5 linked regions of the Homo sapiens genome follow. The protein of the gene in region 3 purifies or fractionates together with the protein of the main gene of each other region. This does not show direct contact. Each region holds a gene or a part of one and is shown on either strand. Other genes may lie near its edges. The genes, in order: VPS13A, FLVCR1, XKRX, FAM234B and TRAFD1.

The links.
Region 1: the proteins of XKRX (region 3) and VPS13A purify together in Homo sapiens (affinity purification with mass spectrometry; 2 studies listed by BioGRID and IntAct, with this or other methods). This does not show direct contact.
Region 2: the proteins of XKRX (region 3) and FLVCR1 purify together in Homo sapiens (affinity purification with mass spectrometry; 2 studies listed by BioGRID and IntAct, with this or other methods). This does not show direct contact.
Region 4: the proteins of XKRX (region 3) and FAM234B purify together in Homo sapiens (affinity purification with mass spectrometry; 2 studies listed by BioGRID and IntAct, with this or other methods). This does not show direct contact.
Region 5: the proteins of XKRX (region 3) and TRAFD1 purify together in Homo sapiens (affinity purification with mass spectrometry; 2 studies listed by BioGRID and IntAct, with this or other methods). This does not show direct contact.

Annotation. Positions count from the first base shown.
Region 1 is NC_000009.12:77,313,533-77,317,052, reverse strand, and holds part of VPS13A (intermembrane lipid transfer protein VPS13A), read right to left. Parts: intron 3,062-3,520; coding exon 2,934-3,061; intron 2,559-2,933; coding exon 2,389-2,558; intron 1,801-2,388; coding exon 1,583-1,800; intron 880-1,582; coding exon 647-879; intron 1-646. UniProt on the Homo sapiens protein: Mediates the transfer of lipids between membranes at organelle contact sites. Binds phospholipids. Required for the formation or stabilization of ER-mitochondria contact sites which enable transfer of lipids between the ER and mitochondria.
Region 2 is NC_000001.11:212,896,273-212,899,881, reverse strand, and holds the end of FLVCR1 (choline/ethanolamine transporter FLVCR1), read right to left. Parts: 3' UTR 519-3,609; downstream 1-518.
Region 3 is NC_000023.11:100,926,112-100,930,291, forward strand, and holds the start of XKRX (XK-related protein 2), read right to left. Parts: upstream 2,807-4,180; 5' UTR 2,233-2,806; coding exon of another isoform or gene 2,194-2,232; coding exon 1,859-2,193; intron 1-1,858.
Region 4 is NC_000012.12:13,054,363-13,057,882, forward strand, and holds part of FAM234B (protein FAM234B), read left to right. Parts: intron 1-1,188; coding exon 1,189-1,584; intron 1,585-3,520.
Region 5 is NC_000012.12:112,151,830-112,154,122, reverse strand, and holds the end of TRAFD1 (TRAF-type zinc finger domain-containing protein 1), read right to left. Parts: coding exon 1,983-2,293; intron 1,697-1,982; coding exon 1,624-1,696; intron 1,389-1,623; coding exon 1,332-1,388; 3' UTR 519-1,331; downstream 1-518. UniProt on the Homo sapiens protein: Negative feedback regulator that controls excessive innate immune responses. Regulates both Toll-like receptor 4 (TLR4) and DDX58/RIG1-like helicases (RLH) pathways.

The sequences.
Region 1 (3,520 bases), on a different chromosome or scaffold from region 3:
AAATACAAAGAAACAAACAAAAACTTATGCTTCTATTACTCCTTCAGAAGCTCAAATATTTTTGTAAGTATTCGCTGGAAGTCAGCCAGTTAACTTGAAAAGATGTCTGTAAAGGAATGAATTTTAAGTAGAGTTATGAAGAGGAGGAAGGCCAAGAGGTTACTAGAGAGTAAAATATCAATGTGAAGTATGTCAAAGCAAATGGCTGAAGGTTCAAATGAAGTTACATGGAGACAAGGAAAAACTCATTATTTGAGCAAAAACATCCAAACGGGAGAAAAAAGTTGAAACAATAAAATTGAAACAACACAGCAAACAACTGGCAGAAAGTCTTAAAAGTCCAAAGAGCAATTTGGAATTGACATGGTTAGAAAGTCAAAGTAGATCTTAACTGAAAACTGTCAAGATGAACCCAACTTCTTAGTGACAATATTCCCACAAATACTAACAATAATGAGCAGCATCTGGAAGAATGAAAGAGTTTCAAAGCTGGTAAATAATATTCTAAATTAAGCTCTCTAAGCAGAGAGAAAGACATTTTACAGAGCAAGGTTGGAAAGCATGTAGGTAGTTTTTGTTTCCTAAAATGGTATACACTACATCCAAAATAGTTACAATTAAGCAGATGATCAAATAGTTAACTCACAGTAGTGATTTTGCCTTTTCTCTTGACTGGAAGAAACGGGCAGGCTCTCACTTGGAGATCTTTAATGGCAGCAGTCATTGTACTATTTTCAAGGTTACCTTTATAGCAAATTTCACATTGTGTTGTAATGACTAAAGCAGGAGCATCATTTTTTGTCATGTCAGCTACAAACACAATTTCAGGATTTTTAATAATAACATTAATTTCCCACTTCACTGATTCCTGTGTAGGTACTAAAACAAATAAAAATAGATTAAAATATTTGCTATATATTATGAATAATTTATTATTTATAAGAAAATATTAAAATGAAATAATAGTAAAAAGTAAAACAAAAGAATCTTAGATCCCAAAGGAATCAACTACAACCCTTAGTAAAGACTTGAAGAAGCTATAGGCATAAGAACATTTTTAAATGAGGGGAAATCTCCACTATTTAATTGGAAAGCCTAGAAACTAATCTAGTTTCTAACTCTCAACTTGATACTCTTTCTACTATACCACAGTAAATCACATATTATAAAAAGATAATAGAGAAACCGTACGTTAAAAGCTAGGAATAAATACAACAAAAATAAATGAGTGCTTTAAATTGAAATATTATCTTAATTGTGAAAAGGTATGGTTGGTTCATTATTTGCTCTGCTTGTTTTTTTCCACTAGACAAATTCCTTCAAATTACTGCCTGAAGAGAAGTACAATTACTTATTCTAACATAGGTTTCATAATTTTTAAATGCAATATATACTGACACCTTTAAAAAATGCAAACTATACATCCTCCAAGAAAACACATTAAGGTTTTCCTTCTACTCTGAAAAATAAAATTTTAATTTCTTAAAGCATTTACTTTGATGATCTAAAAGGCTAATCAAGGTTAAGTCCTGTTGTAGCACTTCAATAAAACAAATATTAAATATTTTAGCCAATAACTAACCTTCTTCCTTAGCAGTCCATGTTTGCACACTGGTTTCTACAGCAGTGCCTGTGGTGTAGGCCTCAAGAAAGACATTTGCAACAGTCTGCAGAAATTCTACGCTTGCACAAATATACATTTCTTGAAAGACCGCATCAGTCACACAACCATCTCTGACTTTCCTGTACTTTATATCCATCATGTCTTTTTTGTCAAAACCAACTGTCAGTCCTATCATTCTGGAAAACACAATAACAACAATTCCTATGTATGAGTAACTTAGAAGTAATCAAACATATGAGTAAAACTCAAAGACCTCTTATCTCTTTTACTGACAAAAAAAAGCATTCTGAAGTCATGTCTCTTGGGAAGATCCATAAAGTGTTCCAAATAACAAACTTACAAACTTCTGGAACACAAATGTATCATAAATGAGGAAGTGTATGTTCAATAAATTATAAGAGTTTGAATCTCAGGATATTTTTTCTTTTCAATTTTTTATGTACTTCCCATTGCAATTAGCATGGATTAACAATAACTTATATTAGATTTATATTAGAGAATGTAATTTAAAGAATGTAAAAACCAATTTAATTGCACTGATTATTTCTAGTTACTCAACCAATCTATCAATTATCCAGTAAGAATAGTACATAACAGAACCAGGACATTTTAAATGTTAACCGAGTACTACGAGCTGACTGAATTGAAGCTTTAAAGAACCTAGGATGCACTCAGAAAATGAACGTGCAATTCTGGAGATGAATTCTGTAAAATATATCAACGATTTCTCAAGTAAAACCTTAGAACATCATTACAATACATACCGAGGAGTTGCTTTCTTGACATGAGGTCTTTTATCATCTAAAATACAGTTTTTTAATGAGAAGGAAGAAAATGTTGAGCCATCTGTATACATTTTTAAAGTACTTATAATATTCTCCAATTTAAATTCAGCAAGTTTCAGAGAAGGATCACGAACATCTGTAAAGGAAGCCTATGAAAGGAGAAACCAACACAAAATTACAAAGAAACACAAGTCTAAAGTGTATTTCATGATATGAACTACTACAAATTATTGCCTCTGCTTATAACAAACATCAAAATTCTGTCTCCGAAGGGCTCTAATGAAAGGCTAAAAATATATACATATCACTTTAATTTTACAATTTATTTTTCACATTAGCTATATGATAGATAACTCATTTAAAAGGGAAATAGTTATAATTATTATTAAAGTAAAAAGATCATTTTTCTCAGAGGGACAGATACTACAAAATAAATGTTAAATATTAACATTTGTTACTTTAAAAACATCAACCTATGCAAATTTCACATGTGAAAATACATTTTCTTTTCTTCCTGGACTTACCTGTTTAGGACCTGGACTATACAGCACCATGGTGAGATCATCAGTTTTGAAGCTTATGTTTAGTGTTGTCTTAACTAGTAAGGCACGTGAATGTACTTCTACCACAGCAGCTGTCACCACAGTTGCTCCTTGAAAAAATTAAAGTTATTTAATAAAAGAAAATATCATGAAAAGTAGCTCATTAAAATACCCTTGAAATAGATTTAATAGAATTATTAAACAGGTATAGTAAAATGACATTCAAGAAAATAAAATATTAGAAAATTCAGATGTAAAACTCAGTAACTTCTGGCTTAGGACTCTTTCCATAATAATTTGGGAATATTAATTGAACACTTGGTGTTTCTATTTCCTCTTGATGCTTCTGTTCCTACTTCTGTTCTGTTCCAAGGAAAAATAGAACTAATCACTGAGTATGTTTGGAGATTAAGTAAAATAGCACATGTAAAATGCATATTACAGTAACTGGCACATAATTCAGTATTCAAATTTTACTTTAAAAAACTAAAACCAAGAGACATTTTTAAAATTTTTCTACTAATCAGAAGAATTCAAAATTTGTTTTCTACATTTGAATTTTGAATCAA
Region 2 (3,609 bases), on a different chromosome or scaffold from region 3:
CAGCATCCCACACAGCTAGGGGCTGAGCACTCTCACTATGCTATCACCTTCTCCCATGGGAGAAATTGTGGACTGAGGGGAGTCTCTCTTGCCACTAAGCTGTGCCAACTTCAAAGAGTGATGCAGATAAAGTGAAAATCTTCTTCTTCCTTTTCTTTAATGCATTTATTCTCAGATATTTCTGCTCCAATGGTGTGCTGGAACTTCCACGTAGGACTTCTGGATTCCTACAAAAGAACTACCATCTGAAAGTACTGGTAAAAATCAATGCTTCTGTGGAAGAATGATGATATAAAGCTCCTATTCTGCCATCTTGCTAACATCACTCTCTAAAGTTACTTTTAAAGGAATAAAATATTTTAGTATCTATTTTAGCCCTGACCCTGGTAGACTTTGTTTCCTCATTTTATGTTCCATGCACTACCTCATTCCCTCTTTGCCCATTCTGAAATTTTATAATCCCTTTAAACTCCCCATGTGTACCTAAGCATCAGAATTTTTCAAAAAGTCACAGAAAATTAACATAAAAAAATAAATTTATTTTGAGTCTGAAATACTGAAGAACAAGCATACAGATAAATAGTACAAAGAACAAAAATTAGAACATGAGTAATGACTTAAGACACAGGCATTTTTCTAGCTATTGCATACAGACACATTTTTACACACAAACATATTTTTTAAAGACATCTCTCCAACATTCTCAAAAGGCAAGAGCTGTATTTGTGACATTTGTAATAAATGCAACAGCTTTTGAAACATCCAGTTTCTTTCCTAAGTCATTTGATTAAAATTCACACAAGTGATGATTACCTATTCCATTTTCTGAAAATACGACATACAGTCATGTTTCGATCAACAATTGACCACATATGACAGAGATCCTATAAGATTATAATGGAACTGAAAAATTCCTATCACCTAGTGATGCCACAGCCATTGTTACATTGTAGCACAATGTATTATCTGTTCTATGTTTAGATTACACAGATACCATTGTGTTACAGTTGCCTACAGTATTCAATACAGTACCATGCTGTACAGGTCTGTAGCCCAGAAGCGACAGACTTTGCCATCTAGCCCAGGTGTGCAGTAGGCTCTACCACCTAGGTTTGTGTAAGTACACTTCATGATGTTCACACAATGATGAAATCACCTAATGACAAATTTCTCAGAATGTAGCTCTGTCATGAAGTCACACATTACTGTAGAATTATAACATTCTTGCTTGACATATTACAGACAACTTTCACTCAAAATACAGAAAAATTATCAATTCATTTTGCATTGTCACATATTCCATCACCTTTCTAATCAACAAGGAAAAATAAACATAACATATATGTATATGCTTTTCAGAAATAAAGTATTCTAAATTTTATGTGTAATTTGTTCCAAACCTCAGGAACTCAACAAGTACATGATTATTTTAAACAACATTGATAGTTTAAAAATAAAAACATTTGGGGAGAGACCTTAAAATATATTTTTGGCCGTTTTTACCTGTAATGTAAATATCAAAGGAAGCTAATGATTGGACATACTCTGCTTGAGTTACCCTCAACTGACTAAAAAGGCTAAAAAGAAATGTAAAAGTCCGTTGTATCCATAAGGTAGCAATCACATTTGTTTATCCAATTGTCCAGGGAATTTTTCTCTGGCTGGATTCAAGTTCCTGTGATACAATAATTTGGTCTATTCCATGATTAATGGCATTTAATATTTTGGAAAGATCTTTGAGATCAAATTGAACACATTCATTTCATGGATGAGGAAAACGCTGCCCAGAGAGGTTTAATGATTTGTCCAGAGTTATAGGAACATACAGAAATACATCCAGGACATGGACACAGAGTTCCTGATTCTTAGTCAAATTCTTTAGATAACACATTCCCCAGGGTCAGATTCGACATAATTTACAGTCACTTGATTATAGAGAATGTTATAATTTCAATATATATCAATGCATATATTCTGCCTGATATAGTTGGGATACTTGTCCCTCCAATCTCACATTGAAATGTAATCCCCAATGTTGAAGGTTGGCCCTAATAGAAGGTGTTTGGGTCCTGCGGGTGGATCCCTCATGGCTTGGTGCTGTCCTTGCAGTAATGAGTGAGTTTTCACAAAATCTGGTTGTTTGAAGGTGTGTGGCACCTCCCTGCTCTCTTGCTCCTGCTTCGCCATGTGACATCTCTGCTCCCACTTAGCCTTTCACCATGAGTAAAGCTCCCTGAGGGCTCCCCAGAAGCCGAGCAGACACTGGTGCCATGCTTACACAGCCTGCAGAACTGTGAGCCACTTAAACCTCTTTTATTTATAAATTACCCAGTCTCAGGTATTTCTGTTCTTTTTTTCCTGAAACAGAGTCTCGCTCTGTCACCCAGGCTGGAGTGCAGTGGCGCAATCTCAGCTCACTGTAGCCTCCGCCTTCCAGGTTCAGGCAATTCTCATGCCTCAGCTTCCCAAGAAGCTGGGACTACAGGCGTGTGCCACCATGCCCGGCTAATTTGTGTGTGTGTGTGTGTGTGTATGTATTTTTAGTAGAGATGGGGTTTTGCCATGTTGGCCAGACTGGTCTTCAACTCCTGGCCTCAAATGATCCACCCACCTCAGCCTCCCAAAGTGCTGGGACTATAGGTGTGAGCCATCGTGCTCAACCTCAGGTTTTATTTATTTATTTATTTATTTATTTATTTATTTATTTATTTATTTGAGACAGTCTCACTTTATCTCCCAGGCTGGAGTGCAGTAGTGTGATTTTCGCTCACTGCAACCTCTGCCATTCGCATTCAAGCGATTCTCCTGCCTCAGCCTCCTGAGTAGCTGGGATTACAGGCGCCTGCCACTGCGCTAATTTTTGTATTTTTAGTAGAGATGGGGTTTCACCATCTTGGCCAGGCTGGTTTTGAACTCCTGACTTTGTGATCCACCTGCCTTGGCCTCCCAAAGTGCTGAGATTACAGGCATGAGCCACAGCACTGCGCCTGGCCTTTTTTTTTTTTTTTTTTTTTTTTTTTTTTTTTAGTAGAGATGGGGTTTTACCATGTTGGCCAGGCTGGTCTTGAACTCCTGACCTCAGGTGATCCACACGCTTCAGCCTCCCAAAGTGCTGGGATTACAGGCGTGAGCCACCACGCCCAGCCTAAATATTTCTTTATAGCAATGCAAGGATGGCCTAACACACTGCCTAAATCAAAATTGCTATTCACTTCAAGGGTATTCATTACCTGACTAGCTTTTTTGGGTGCATATGAACATAATGTAAATTTTATGGCTGATCAAATGTCATTACTATGAAGATACTCCCTATGAGCTCACAGAGTCAGGACATCAACAATATTTAAACTCTCACTGTAAACATGACACAGTGGTAGGCACTGTGGAAATATATTTGGTCCTATTTTCCCTACCTGAGCATGTAAAAGAGCAGACTATTCTAACAGTGTGATGACTCTGCAGTGAAGAAAAGAATCCACTCTCCCGGCACACTGATAGAGCATGTACCTGGGCATAGTATTCCTCAAAGGAGAATGGTCATAAAAATGATACTGCAGAATTCAAATAGCATTCAAGAGGTCTCCACTAAATGGGGACATGTAGGCTATC
Region 3 (4,180 bases):
TCTCACACAAGGCTACTGTTTTTTCTTATACTAGGCCTGCTTCATTCATTTATGATACCTGCCTGGTCCCTGCAAGTGTTTGAGTTTGAGACCCATGATTTAGACTAACCCATTTGCTTTACAGATGAGGGAACTCTATATGCCTTCCTGTGAAGCCATCTTCAGAGATTTTACCAAGAACACACAACCAGTCAATGACAGGGGGAAGACTAGACTCCAAATTTCAGGCCACTGTTTCCATTGATATCCCATATTCTCTCTGATAGAGCCTAATCGATTCCTCCCCACTTAAAAATTTATTGATAAAAAATTTTTTTGGCCTTATTGAGGTATAAGTGACAAATAAAAATTATACATGTGTACAGATATGAAATTTTATAAAGGAGTGAGTTCCATCCTTAATTAGTTTCACAGACTTTTTAGTTGTCTAATGATGAGGTATCTTCCCATTGCAACACTCTGACCCATATTCCTCGGCTGACTGCAGTTGTCTGCCTCTCTTGCAATCAAGACAAACTTGGTCCATTCCTTACTCCTGAACTCATAAGTTTTGCAACATCTCTCTACCTTGAAAACCCCATAGCATCCAGATGAGACTGTTGACACAGGTGCCTATCTCGCTAGGATTAAGTGCATTCTTTCCACTTCAAGGCAATCTGAATGGAAATACTTGATACTATTAAATTGTGCTACTGCATCCACATAGAGAGATGAACTGCCTTCCTTTGCCCCCTCCCAACTTCGTATCTTTATTGCAGAAATATACAAAGAGATAAATAGGAAACTGATAAACCGACAGAGAACTGAACTATATTGGGTTGGGGTACAGATTACCACAGATGGTTTAAAATAGTTTCCAGATGTCACATTACTCTGGAAAATTTGAAAATGGCAGTAGCACCAGCCCAAGCAGCTCAGGGTAAAGAAACTTTTATCCAATTTACAAAGCATCCAAAAGGTAGAGTCAAAATTACACACTCAGACCAGGCGCGGTGGCTCACTTTGGGAGGCTGAGGCAGGAAGATCACTTGAGCCCAGTCTACATAACGAGATCCCGTCTCTACAAAAAAAATTTTTTTTTTTTTGAGATGGAGTCTCACTCTATCGCCCAGGCTGGAGTGCAGTGGCACCGATCTTGGCTCACTGCAACCTCTACCTTCCGGGTTCAAGTGATTCTCCTGCCTCAGCCACCAGAGTAGCTGGGATTACAGATATGCGCCACCACACCCAGCTGATTTTTAGTAGAGACAGGGGTTTCACCATGTTGGCCAGCTGGTCTTGAACTCCTGACCTCAGGTGATCCACCCGCCTCAGCCTCCCAAAGTGCTGGGATTACAGGCATGAGCCACCACACCCGGCCTATAAAAATTTTTTTTTAATTAACCAGGCATGGTGACACATTCCTTTGGTCCCAGCTACTTGGAGGCTGAGGTGGGAGGTTCGCTTGATCCCAGGAGATCAAGGCTGCAGTGAGCCATGATCGCACCACTGCACTGTAGCCTGGGAGGCAGAGCAAGACCTTGTCTCAGAAAAAAAAAATTTTTTAAATAAAATTACACACTCTGCAGCTATGGCCTTCATGCACAGGGTGATCACGTCTTGTTGTTCCCATTCTAGTTTACACAGGCCAAATAGCATCGTTCATTGTTTTGGAACACAAGTACATACCACATGTTCATCATGGTGGCATTTAAGATTTCAGGTAAGTTTTCTGAATGGTAGACAGGGAAGCCGAGAGTGGGAGGAAATGAGAGAATTGATTAGAGCCATAGTATCCATCTTGTAAATCTTTCATCTTTCTCTGCCCAAGTCTGGGGTGGGGTTAGGGGGGTAAGGAAAAGATTTAAAAGTTGCTCACCTGATAACAGGTCCCAAGAGGATTAGATGCATAAATAATGATAGCGGTTTATCTTTGGCTAGATCTCTGTGGACAAAAATGAGGGTCAACTGGACCATAATGGATGAAAACATAAAGAAAGAAAAGGTGTATGTCATCCAGTAAGTTTCACTATTCTTTCGATAGATTCTAACCATGTACAAAGCAGATGCAGCCTCCCCACAGTACAAAAAGGTGGAGAAAAGGATGCTAAATGGAAAAGTAAATCGGGGGTTGGCTCCACGGATGACATCTTCCTCCAGAGATGAAACCGGATCCACATTTGGCTCCTCAGGAATTTCATAAACTCTGTCCATTGTCGAGGTTCTTTCTGAATGTTGTGGTCTTGTGTTCATAGCACCCTCCCACCCATCCCCAAGAGAACCCTATGGCCGCTACAGTCCAAGTATAGGTGAGGAGAGCTCTGTCAAGTCCAGTTTGGGAACAGAGATTCACTAGTTAGAGCAAGAAACCGCTCTCTTCTAGACTCAGATTCGACTTGGAGTCTGGGATGGAAAGCCCAGGAGTACCACTTTGAACTTGACTCTTGATTGGCCCCGATTCCAATCGTCAACATACTTGCTGTGAAACTTGAACAAGACAAAAGCAAGCATCCCAGCGCCCCATCCAGAGTCCAACTCCAGGGACGTGAAGAGTCATGAGAACAGCGGCTTCCGTGGCGGCTCCTTTCGCAGCCCCTCAGGCAGGGTGTAGCCGATCTGTCGGGGGCACCGACACTCAGCAGCTCCTCACAAAGAGTCCTGACCAGTGTGTCCTCTCAAGTCAGCGGAGAGCTGAGCCAGGGCAGAAGAGCGGGCGCAGAAGAAGGAGGGCAGAAGAGGGGATTCAGTTCAGTGCCTAGGTATCCTAGCTATTGCTAGGCTGTAGCTATCAGCTGGCCCGCTCACCTGCGCGCTCTCAGGACCTTTGCCGAGTCCAGGGTTCTCAGGATAGCTCCTCGGATTCCCCCAAGCCCCGCCCCCAAGACCGCCTGGCCCGGGAGTGGAGTATTGTCACCACCCTGTCTCCGAATGCAGTGTTGAGGGACAGAAGCAGAGCGCGCTCGCTCTACAGGATGAAGAAAAGGCTGGAGGGGCTGCTTCTCCTCGGAGAAACTTTGCTAGTGAGAGGCACGATGTGCGGGGCGCCAACCTGGCTGGACGGAGGTCGCCAAACTCTTGGACGCCGTCTGCTGCCAGGGTCCTGCCTGGTCTGCGATTCCAGCTGCGAGAGGTCGGCAGCTTCAAAAACTAAGGCACCGGGACGGCGGGGGCGGGCGAGATGGGCGGGACGGCTGCGGCCAAACAAAACCAGCCGGAGAGTTCCCGGGCAGGCGGCCAGCCGAGGGATGCTCGTTGTGGAGTGGCGGGACAAAAAGGGGCTTGGGCCGCTCTTCAGAAGCACTTCTGACCACCACCTCCAGACCCAGGCAGGAGCCACAGCTTTACTCCTCCCTAGGAGCAGCAGGCCCCCACTTCTACCCCGCCCTCCCTAACTAGTTAAGTGACTTGCTTCAACACTCACTCTACCCACGCTGTTAGGCAGGTGTGTCTCCCTCCGCCGCAGGGTGGAACCTCCCTAGGTCCTATTGCCCTCCAGATAATATCATGAAGGGGGAACCTGGGAGGAATAGGGTCAGAGTTTTCGGCGGAGGGAAGATAGAACAGGATAAAGGTCAAGACTCAAGGTCAGCCCACAGACACTGAAAGCTCATATTTTATGCCTTGATTTCTCCACTTGCAAAATGAGGCCAGGATAGGAGCTTTAGAATGAACTTACAGGTCTTTGGTTGAAAGGTTATGAAGAGGTGCCAAATTCTAAACAGACTGGCAAAGAGCCAAGAGAGAGCTGTTAGTAAAAACTGAGAGGGGTGTCTTAAAGAGCTTTGAAAATTACCTGTATTCTTAAGTGTAATCCTCCCCACCTCACTGAGCTTTTGTTTTCATATCTTCATTTGCATAATTCTAAACCTCAGAGAAAAAGAGAACACATCTGCCTCCTGGTAATAATATAGATGAAGGCCAGGCACAGTGGTTCACGCCTGTAATCCCAGCACTTTGGGAGGCTGAGGCAGGCAGATCACTTGAGGTCAGGAGTTCGAAACCAGCCTGGCCAACGTGGTGAAACCCCATCTCTACTAAAAATACAAAAATCAGCTGGTCGTGGTGGTGCGTGACTGTAATCCCAGCTACTCAGGAGGCTGAGGCAGGAGAAAAACTTGAACCCGGACGGCAGAGGTTGCAGTGAGCTGAGATCACGCCACTGCACTCCAGCCTGGGCAACAGAGCAAGATTACGTCTTAAT
Region 4 (3,520 bases), on a different chromosome or scaffold from region 3:
TCTGCCGTGGTTCCAGCTGGTCCCTCCATTTGGGGTCCTTGCCTTCCCGCAACAATCTGGTCTCCATATAGTGTTTTATTCTTTCATTTTATTAATTGAACAAACTGAGATATAATGTATGAAATGACATCACCAAGGCCATAGTGACCCAGAGGTAGACACTAGCATTAATAATTATTCTTTTCCCCTTTTTAATTAGCTGGGTTTTGTGGTCTTTTTTATATTTCTTCTGAACAAAAGATTTAATGATAGAGTTTACATTAGTGATAGATTACTGCATAAAGTCTCCCCAAAAGAAACATTTTCTTGGTTGTTACTTGGTGGTAACATGAAATAAAGGCATAAAATCATTCAGTCATTGGCAGTGAGGCCAAGGGGTGGGTGGCTTGGGAGGAGGTGTACCTAGGCTCTTCTGTAATTTCTCTCTCAGCTATCCCAAATCAACACTGCAAGCTAAGTAAAAACAAAGTGCTTGCCATGCAAAGCACCTTCAAGACAAGTCCCCTACCTCTGTGTACTGGCTAGATCACCACCCCTCCCAGAATACTTGCTCAGAAGAGCAGTTTTTGGGGTAAACACTGTTTACTAAAAGATAGACTGAAAGGGCATTCAAATCACAGGATGGTTCTTAGAAGTGAGATTTCAATACATCTTCAGATGAACATTCAGTGTTCAACTTTCTAAGTTGTTTCCATAGAAACAGTTGGGAAGCCACAGATATTGGGCTGTGAGAAGCAGCGTATGGAGAAGAATTGTTCTAAAAGTTTACCAGGAAAGATTAGGATGTCACAGATCTAAGAAGATCTGAGGCAATATGCACATTAGGCACATGGAGAGTTGATGTGGAGCCATGATCTTTTTCTTGAGTGAGATTCAAACACATTAAGAGAGCTTTCTTTTTAAACTAAAGGCATTTTAAATTTGCTAACTTCTGCCTCCTTTTCCATTGTCTTAAACTCATGCAGGCAGTGATCCTGGAGCACTGTGCTTTTGTTTTTCCTTCCATTCCTAACCCCTGCTTCACTGGCTTCTGTTTTACAGATAGCCACCAAGGTTCAAACTTGATGTAAACCTGGATTTTTTTGTTTTAGTTTTCCGTGTTCTTCTGGGTATTTACAGTTGCCATATATTTGGTGAGGGTGTCTTCTCCCCAGTTCCCCTTGACTCTCTGTTTTTCTGTATTTTCAGGGAAGAAGAGCCCAGACCTAGGGGAGTATGATCCACTTACCCAGGCTGACAGTGATGAGAGCGAAGACGATCTGGTGCTTAACCTGCAGAAGAATGGAGGGGTCAAAAATGGGAAGAGTCCTTTGGGAGAAGCGCCAGAACCCGACTCAGATGCTGAGGTTGCAGAGGCTGCAAAGCCACATCTTTCAGAAGTCACCACGGAGGGCTACCCCTCAGAACCCCTTGGGGGCCTGGAACAGAAGGCGGCCTCCTCCCTGGTGTCATATGTGCGCACGTCTGTCTTCCTGCTGACTTTGGGGATCTCGATGATCCTGGTGCTCCTGTGTGCTTTCCTGATCCCCTGTCCTCCCAGAGATCTGCACAGCACCTGGAGCCGCCACTTGGGCTCCCAGGGAGGTGAGCTGCAGAATCTTCAGCCCTAATCCTGTGAAACTTCATGCTATGTCTGATTACATTTAAATTTTCCTCCAAATCTTAAAACTTAATATGTGTCATGCGGCATTCCCCACCCTGCCGTCCCCACTGTGTGGAGGTGGCAAGGAGATTAAGATTTGAAAGAAAACAAACACCTCCAAAAACCTGGGAATCATTGCTCTGTTGTGTCTGTTGGCATTGGTCTTTATTAGATCCAGAGAGGACAGGGCTGGTTTGCTGGATTCCTGCTGTGGAGCCAGCACTGTATCAGGGGAATGCAAAGCTGTAGGAAGGGCTATTTACAGAGAAAAGCAAGGTTCAAGGCCTGGTTGCACCAGGGATAGAGCTCTTGCAGAACCCTTTGACATTCTTTGATGATAGAGGTCTGATCTAATTTAAATTATAAAATAATTTCATTTCCTGTAAAAGATAGTTGCTATCTTTTCTTTCTTGCTCCTCATGGTTAGGGCGGTGCTGTCTGAGTAATTCCAGCTATTCTGTCTCCTTTTTGGAGTAGGCTTCTTTAAAACCTCTTGCTCTGGAATGGGACTTACATCTCACCTGTGTTGAGTAGTCCTGTCTCTTGTGAACTGGATTAAGCTATCCTCAGACCCCTGGCATCCTCTTGATCTAGAAATGTTTATCTCTGCCACTTCTCTGATCCCAGTTGAATTAGCTTCTGATGAGTTCTGTGTTCTCATCTTTAGTTTCTCTGAAGGCAAGTTTCATTTACATATATTTATATACAGTTTAAAGGTAACAAATTGTTGGTGTGTCTACCACCCAGCTTTAGAAATAGAACATCATTGAGACCTTCACAATCTCTTGTGTGTCCCTCCTGACCACATCCTCCTCTGCCCAGCAAAGGCCTCTGCTATCCTGAATTTTGTGTTGATTATTCCTTTTTCTGTAAAGTTTTACCATGTCAATATGTACCCCTAAACTGTATATTCATTACTTTTGCTGGTTTTTAAATTTTACATGAATTTAATCATGCAGTCTTCTGTGAACTGCTTTTTTTTTTTTTTTTTGCGACAGAGTCTTGCTCTGTCACCCAGGCTGGGGTGCAGTGGCATGATCTCGGCTTACTGCAGGCTTCACCTCCCGCGTTCAGGTGATTTTTGTGCCTTAGCCTCCCGTGTAGCTGGGATTGCAGGAGCTCGCCACCATGCCTGGCTAATTTTTGTATTTTCAGTAGAGACGGGGTTTTGCCATTTTGGCCAGGCTGATCTTGAACTCCTGACCTCAGGTGATCCACCCACCTCGGCCTCCCAAAGTGCTGGGATTATAGTTGTGAGCCACTGCACCCAGCCTGTGACCTGCTTCTTTGTGCCACTTAATTTTTTGAAAACAATTTATTGAGATTCATCTATATTGATGCATTATACCTGGAGTTTATTCATTTTCACTACTGTCTGATTTTTCCATGGTATGAATATCTCATGATTTATCCATTTTTCTGTTGATGAACCTTTAAGTAATGCTTCCAGTCTTTTTTTTTTTAAATAAATAAATGATGCTGCTAAGAACATTTTTGTATATGTTTCCTATTGCAGTGTATAAGAATTTATCTAAGGCATAAACCTAGGAGTAAAATTGCTGGATCATACCATAGGGTGTGTGCATGTTCATTATTAGCAGTTTATGTTAAATTATTTTCCAACATGGTTGTACCGATTTACATTTCCACTAGCAATGTGTGAATTCTCTCCAAATTTGGTGGGCATCCTCTGAGTCCACACTTTTGGGTGGTGGGGGGATGGAAGTCCAGACTCCTCACTAGGCCTCTGCTGACACCACCCCCGTGGAGAGGAGGGAGAGGGCTGCCTTGTTGATGCTAGTTGGGGTGGAACTCCTTTGGTCCTGCTAGATGAGGATGACAGTCCTTGCCCCCACCTGGCTTTCTCTGACATGACCC
Region 5 (2,293 bases), on a different chromosome or scaffold from region 3:
TAATTCTTTTCAGAGACCTGCCTCTGCAAAGAACTGGCCGCATGGTTCCCGTGTCTAGTGTTCCATCTATGAAATAGGGCAGTTCCTCCCACCTTTCCCACCCCAACAGGTTGTTGGAAGAACAAAGGAACTCAAAATGACCTACGGTGCTCAGTGGTCCTATGCAGACGGAGGCACTGAGGGGTAACAGCTAATCCTGCTAGGGCTCAACTCCTCTCAGGATGAAGGCTTTTGAAGAATCTGCTTTTCTCTATTCAGTCAGAGGCACCCCTTCTAGCCCCAGTCATCACCGGAGCTGCAGCAAGCCTGTCAGTTTTCTCAGAAGTCCAATTTAAAACACTACACGTTCAATGTCTGTGTACTCCAAGAAGGGACTCATGGTGGAGCTGCGAGGGTTACTGGAGTGCCGGAGAAAGCCCAGCCCTGCTCACCTCCTCCAACCCCAGGGCTGACTCCAGCCTACCCTGCCCTCCCTGCAGTCTCTAAAGCACACAGGAGAAGGAACCACAAGACTGAGCTGAACTCCAAGTACAAACTTTATTTCTATTACAAGGAAGTTAATAATTATTATAACAGTAAAATAAAAACAAGGGGAAGGGGCTCTGACACTTGGTTTTCAGAGCAAGTGTGGGGCTGGGGCAGAGCCCAACATACCTGCTGTGGGGACAGGGAGCCCTCAGCCCTCCCCATTAGAAAGCAGTGAGGACAAAAGATCCATGCTCCCCCGGGAACAGAAGGCAGTGATGCCAAATGCCAAGGAAGCAGCTTAAAACACAGCCCCCGGTCCACTCACCTCCAGCTCAACACATCAAAAGCCTCGTTACTGACAGACATTGCAACTGGCCTGAGCACCTTACCAGAGCGCCTCATACACACCTGGGGCCCAATCGAGTGTGGACAGACGCAGTACACGGAGAGGTTGCCCAAAAGCCCCCAAATTTAGGCCCCAACAGGGCAGAGAATCACCTTACTGGTGGCTACCAGGTTTCCAAAATCTTCCCCTCCTTCCACTGGGACCACACAGCACCAAGGGGCAGTGGCGACAATAAGTCAAAAGGGAGCCCTGGCAGCCGAGGCTGCAGCTTGTATTTCACTGCTGCCGAAAGGTAGCAGCTAAGGCTGAAGCGTTCCTCAACCGCCACCCTGCTCCCTTCCCTCAAACCCAAACCCCCACAGCACAACCTCAAAAGACACAAAATGGCCATAACCTAGAAAAATCTAAAATCTGGAAAAACTCTCCCACCCAAAGAGCCAAAGAGGTGGGCCTGCACAGCGGCAAGTGCTGCTGTGCACAGAAGACAGGAACCGATGTAAAGTCTCTGGAGACACCATTACTCCTCCTCTTCCTCTTCTGCATCCCCAGCTCCCTGTTGCTTGGAAGGCTTTGCCTGGTGAACAACACAACACAAACGAAGCTTTACATAAAAAGTGAAAAAGCATTACTCCTCCCCTGGATCCCCGAAAATGTCCCGCTTCCTTAGAAACCTCCTTCTCAAAAGCCAAAGGAACAATCTTTGAACCACAACCAGCCTGGTCCCAACAACTTCTACAACTTCAGGAGCCACACAAGCCCCACCATGTCTGAGTCCCCCACTGAGCATCATGGGCTGGAGCCCACCTTACCTTTGCAGTTCTGCTGCGGTAGTTGGCAGCTGCAGGGGTGACCCGGGAATTCCTGCCACCTTCACTCCTACCACTGAAAGAAAACAATTAGAAACTAGCTCCTGAAGTGTCCCTGAGCAAAGGTCAACAAACTCAGAGGGAACAGGAAGCAGTCCTATGCTAGCAGACAAACCCCAAAAAACCCATAGGCCACAAAATAATTTTTTTGGAGTCAGGTGACAATACAGGGAAAATCCATACTCCTCCCCTTACCATGCAAGTACCTCAGTCTTACCCCAGGCCTGGCAAGGGTAACCAGGCCTTTGCCCATGTTCGCTTCAGCTACTCCCAAGCCCCATTCCTGGGCTACTGATTCTTACCTAGCTCCGTATCTCCCTGAAGGCCCAGGGGAGAAAGAGGGCACAATGTTTTCTGGGTAGAGATTTTGAGGAGGGCGAATCACTGAAACGTGCCCAGGGGCTATGGCCCCATTCTGGCTGTCTCGATTCCGCCCCTGGATGTCCTGGCTGTCTGAGTTGCTGAGCTTCGGCACACAAGGAGAGCTGGGCTGGCACCCAGGTCTGGGGCCTGATGTTGATCTCGATAGCTGGTTATAGGTAGCTGTCATATTGTTAATGGGTCGGCTGGGAGGCAGACAGGAGGTGGGCCCATTAGCTGTTTCCTGCTTAGT